Regions from separate parts of the Homo sapiens genome. Here region 2 is linked to region 1. A link means that fine-mapping ties the variant in region 1 to the expression of a gene that starts in the linked region. Tissue or cell type: whole blood. Region 1 holds a variant in brackets; the other region holds the start of a gene. All regions are shown on one strand. Distances are from middle to middle.

What was found. PIP is the estimated chance that this variant, and not a neighbour inherited with it, causes the effect.
Region 2: SAMHD1 starts here. The variant in region 1 is fine-mapped to the expression of SAMHD1 in whole blood (INTERVAL, PIP above 0.99).

The regions. Positions count from the first base shown.
Region 1 is chr20:37,914,445-37,917,200 of GRCh38, forward strand. All of the region lies in intron 1 of VSTM2L (V-set and transmembrane domain containing 2 like), which reads left to right. LOC124904896 (a long non-coding RNA gene) reads right to left here. Exons shown (of 3, transcript XR_007067576.1): 1 at 1,179-2,756. Among named protein-coding and RNA genes, the nearest start is that of VSTM2L, 13 kb to the left of the region's middle. RefSeq lists enhancers at 1-616, 617-1,464. The variant T/G (reference allele first, on the strand shown) is at 1,401.
Region 2 is chr20:36,950,322-36,952,949 of GRCh38, forward strand. SAMHD1 (SAM and HD domain containing deoxynucleoside triphosphate triphosphohydrolase 1) reads right to left here and starts at 1,387. Exons shown (of 16, transcript NM_015474.4): 1 at 1,115-1,387. The coding sequence starts at 1,322. RefSeq lists a silencer at 882-1,101.

The DNA.
Region 1 (2,756 bases):
ATGTGTGTGTGTATTGTGTGTATGTGTGTATTTTGTGTGTGTGTATTGTGTGTATGCGTGTGTGTTGTGTGTGTGTGTACACTGGCCTCCTTTCTAGTCCTTGCACACACCAAGTTCCTTCCAGACCTTTTCTCTCCCTGGCTGTTCCCTCTGCCCCTCGTGCTCTCTTCCCGTCTCCCGGCTCCTGGCTCCCCTGTGCTCCACGGACCCCTTAGAGAAGCCAGAAGCACATGACCTGTCAGAGCCGCATCGCACGGCCCGCAGCAGGCATCGGGCTCCCATTCAACACGCCCACCTTGCAGAGGGGAAAACTGAGGCTTAGAGAGGCGTGGTGAGCTGGGGCCCCACACCTAGTTCAAAGCAAGGGTGCAGAGCCCAACCCTATGTTCCCCCAGCCCGGCATTTTAAGGGTGTCTCTTGGGATGGGGGTGGGGTCTTGACTGACCCCTCCTTCCTCAGAGCCCCCAGGCTGGGGCCCGAGGTGGGGAAGGCGGAGAGCTGACGGCGGGGTGTCTGTTTTGCTTTGTGAGGTTTTAAAAAAATCATTTCCGGCGTTGAAGGCGGCGGCAATTAGGGCCTGCTCGCTGGGGAGCTGTTTGCCGCCTGTCGTCGGTCCGGGAAAGGGTCCCTAATGGAGGCCCGGCGGCCAGAGCGCAGGATAGTGGAAATAGTGCTCAAAACAAAGCTTCACTAATGGTCTCCCGGCAGGCAGCGGAGGAGAGGGAGGGGCGGTCGGACAGCGGCTGAGGGCCCCTGGGACAGGGCCCAGATCCACCAGCTCCTCTCTCCATGGCCCTCAGACACCCTCCAGCTAGTGCGGGAAGCCCCGGGCCCCACCCGCGCTGCTGCCTTCTTGCTCTGTGCTCTTGGCCTGTGAAATTCCCTCCCAGGCTCTGGGAACACTAAGCGCCAAGGTCCTGGGGTGGGGCCCAACCCCTTCAGCCATGAATTCTCTGGTTCTAGAATAGCCCTAGGGTTTAATAAGTCCAAGGGGCCCGGAGCCTTGAAGAAGGAGGAGCTTCTTCAAGTAGAGCCAGGCTACGTGAGGAGGTGACAGGAGAGCAGCCTGATCCTGTCCGGGAGCCCACTGTGTGCCTGCGTGATGTCACTGCAGCACCGCTCACAGCACCCATTTTACAGATGAGGAAACCGGGCTAGAAGCTCAGAGATTCACCTACCTTGAGGAGGTGCAGTTGGGTTGAAATCCAGGTCAGCCTGACTCCGGAGCCCACATATTTACTGTTGCTTCCTTGAATTTCGCAGACACGATTGGGCAGGGGTGGCAGGGGCTGGGGCTGGGGCATGTACTAGGTCCTGGGTGGGGGGTCAGGTTTGACCGAGGCCAGGTTCTGGTCAGGGTGGGGCCACCACCACCCTACCCACTGGGCACCCTCAGAGCC[T/G]CTGTTCTGGAACATCCCAAGTGCCTGCCTCCATCTGTCCCTGTCCGTTGGTCTCTGCCTCCCCTTTTGCCCCGTCCTTCATGTCCCTGGCCCTCCTGCCTCCACCCTCAGCGCCCCTTACAGCCCTCACTGTTCTTTCTCCTCAGTGGCTCTGAGGCTGCTCCTTTCTGGCGTGCTGGAGCAAATCCATCCCTGTGATTGATGCAGCCTCCTTTGCTTCCCCCACTTCTTCCCTCTTAGCCCCTCCCGGCAGCAGAGGATGGCTATGCGCCTCGGCTTTGGGATCTGACACTAAGGCTCAAATCCTGCCCCGCTCCAGCCTCTCTGAGCCTCGTTATGCATCCGTGCAATGGGCTCACCCCACTAGCTTTGCAGGATGTACTGGGGAGAATGAAAATAAATGGTATCGGTAGAGACGTCGGGACGCCTGTGTGCCTGCTCCCGGCTCCTGGCTCCCTGCCCCCGCCCCTGCCCTATCTCTGGCTCCCTGAACACTCCCGCGCTTGCCTCCCTCCCTCCCACCTGCTCTCACTCCTTGTGGCCCAGACATGTGGGAAGAGGAGGCGGGAATTCCACTGGGGAAACCTGCTCAACTCCCACAATCCTGCAAGTGCCAGAATATTTTAGTTCTCCTTAAATCTCCCTAGATTTGTAATTCTACTGCTGTCTACCTCAATATGTGCTGGTGGCCTTGGGAGGCGCCCTGCTTCCAGCTTGCCGGCTCCAGCACTTCCTGCTCAGCTATGTCGGGGTGTCTGGCAGGGAACCTGGGCAAGTCCCCACCCACTCCGTGCCTCAGTTTCCCCATCTGTAAGAAGAGGACAATGATAGTGGCCACTTCCCAGGTTGTTTTGGGGATTAGGTAGGATATTTTATTGTATTAAAGAAACACCTCTATGAAAAGTAATGAATTACTGATGTGTGCGACAATGGTAGATGAACCTCAAAAACTCTATGCTAGATGAAGGAAGCCAGTCACAAAAGACCACATATTATATGATGCAGATGATATGAAATATCCGGAGTAGGCAAATGTGAGAATGCAGATTTGAGGTTGCCAGGGGTTAGGGGAGAGTGGGGAGTGAGGAGTTTCCTTCTGGGGGGAAGACAGCATGTTGGGACTAGTTGCATCACATTGTGAATGCACTAGATGCGACTCAATTGTCCACTTTAAAGTGGTTAATTTTGGCCAGGTGCGGTGGCTCACACCTGTAATCCCAGCACTTCTGGAGGCCAAGACGGGCGGATCACGAGGTCAGGAGTTCAAGACCAGCCTGGCTAATGTAGTGAAAGCTTGTCTCTAGTAAAAATACAAAAAAATTAGTCAGGCGTGGTGGAGGCCGCCTGTAATCCCAG
Region 2 (2,628 bases), 960 kb before region 1:
AGGGGGAAGAAAAAAAAAAAAGGAGAAATGCAATTTCCCATACCCATTCAAGCTATCTTTGGGTCCTGAACCACTAATGTTCCTCCTACCCCAGTTTCCAACCTAGCCAAACAGGGCCCCACCTAACAAATGCAAAAATTTACTAAATTTGCAAATCCCAACCACCAAAGAATCACCTTCCTATTGGACACCTAGAGGATATAAGGCAGGAGTCAAATCTCACACCCACCACAAAAAGTTGAGTAGAATTCACAAGGATGGATGCTTGGATACGAATCAGTAAAATATGATTAAAACTCAACCTAAACACTTCTCCAGGGGATGTGGCCAAACTGTGGCATGCTGGGGATTCAGTGGTCAACTGAACAACCCCAAGGTTCAGATTTTGGAGGGGAACCTGCTTTTAAAGAGCAAAACATGTTCCTTACCATGTTCTGCAAGTGCAGTCAACACACGCCTATCGGGCGCTGCTGGGATGCCAAGGAAGGTGATGGGAATTCAGAGATTAACCAAGCCAGTTCCTTCCCCTTCAGGAAAAGCCTCAATTCAGGGAGGAAACCGAAACCTAAAAGCCCCAGAACATCCTCTGATGTGGCAAGTGTTCAAGGAGCTGCGGTTAGCGCGGAGGGGTCCCGCGAGCCTGGATGACAGCAAGCCGCCCACCAAGGTCTGGGGAAAAATCTCCTTCTAACTAAAAAAAAGGGACCCGAGTCTCGCTTGTCCCGCGCCGGGGTGGCAAGTTAGTGAAGAAACCCACGAGAGTGAGATCCCAATCTACGACTGCCCCTCCCAGGTCCTCAATCCCGGGAGCCTGCTCCCATCCTACGAATCGCCTATCCCAGGCGACCCCATGTCTTCTTCCTCCGCCTCGGGGAGTCAGTCCCGGGAGCCCCATGCCGCAGGCCCTCCTGGGAACCCCCGCCGCAGGGCTCCCTCCCCCGCCTCGGGTCTTCCTTTCCTCGGCGCCCCCAGCGCAGGTCCGCCCTCCCGGGTGCCTCCCGCCGCAGGGCTCGCTCCTCGGCCTCGGTCCTCTCGTGGGGCCCCCTCCCTCAGGGCGCCTGGCCCGCGCCCCAGGTCGCCGCCCTTCGCCCCTCAGCCCCTCCGGAGCCGCTACCTCGGATGTTCTTCAGCAGCACCGGCTCTTCAAAGCCACCGCGCCTGAGGAAGGAGCACACCTGCTCCGGACCCCATGTCTTGTAGTCGGGATGGAGTTCCAGGCCCGGGGACCAGTCTGCCTCTGCGGAAGGGGTGTTTGAGGGGGTTCTCGGGCTGTCATCGCAACGGGGACGCTTGGAGGGCTGCTCGGAATCGGCTCGCTGCATGGCTACACCTGGCGTCCGGCACAGCAGTCAAGAACCTCGGCGCCGGACCCGCGCGCAGGCGCACTGACAGCAGGGCCCTGGCGGGGAGTCCAAGGAGTATTGGCAGCCTATTGGCCTCCTGCGCAGGCTCACTGACAGTTGAGCCCTTCGGGCAGGGCAGCCTAGCGGCTCTTGCCTTGGGCTCCCTGCGCAGGCGCAATGGCAGTCCAGTCGTCCTCAAATCAATCCCGCCAGGGCGCTGGACGTGAACGCGAAAGGGCGTGGCTAGAAGCAGAACTGAGGGCAGTGCTGGTGGAAAGGGGGAGGAAAGAGCGCGCCCGGCACCGCACCCCCAATTAGGGGCTCGTCTAGTGAATTGGGGGTATTCTCCTTCGAATGAGTACACTACCCGCCGCACCTTGGCCGGGTTTCAGATGCCCCAAACTTAAAAGAAGCCTAAAAGGCCGTCAGGCTGCCAGCACCTTCCCAGTGAAGAGGAAAACAGTCAAGGTGCTGAACTGGAAGAACCCGGAATGATTTCAAATGTGACTTGAGGGTGTCTTCATTCCACAGTATTGCTGGTCAACTAGAGGGCCCTGGGATACCTGTTGTCTGGTGTCCACACAGGAGGGGACTTCAGACTTCTTTCCAACTAGAGACAGAGCCCTCCATCCCAACTGCATTCCCAGAGGAAGGAAAGTGGCCAGTCTGATTACTTAAAATTTAACTTCTGAGGACTTTTACTGCCTGGTTGTAACAGCATGTGAAAATGGCAGGCATTTTCCCATCACTTAACCCCTCTGCGGCAGGGCTCAAACTTCCCTATAAATACTGGTCCATGCAATTGCCTGGTAAAAGGACATATCACTATTACTGTTAATAAAGCCAACACACCTTCCCAGCAACCAAGGCATAGACCTGTTTAGGGGGTCAAGGACGAATGAGGCGGAATAGCTTATCATCAAGCAGTATGAACTAGTGGTCTACTGGTGAGCCAAAATATTATTTGCAAACAGAGCTTTACTGTGTGCCAGGCACGGTTCTAAGGGCTTTACAAATATAAAATAATTTTATATTTATACATAATACTAAATGAATTAAGTACATTCATTAAATTATTTAAATATTAAATAATTTTTATAACTTCTAAGGGTTTTACAAATATTGTAAAGTTCTAAGGGCTCTACACATATTACTTCACTTAATTATCACAATTACCTTAGGATGTAGGAAAAAGTAATTTGCCGCAGGTCTTCTTTTTTTTTTTTGAGACGGAGTCTTGCTCTGTTTCCCAAGCTGGAGTGCAGTGGCGTGATCTCAGCTCACT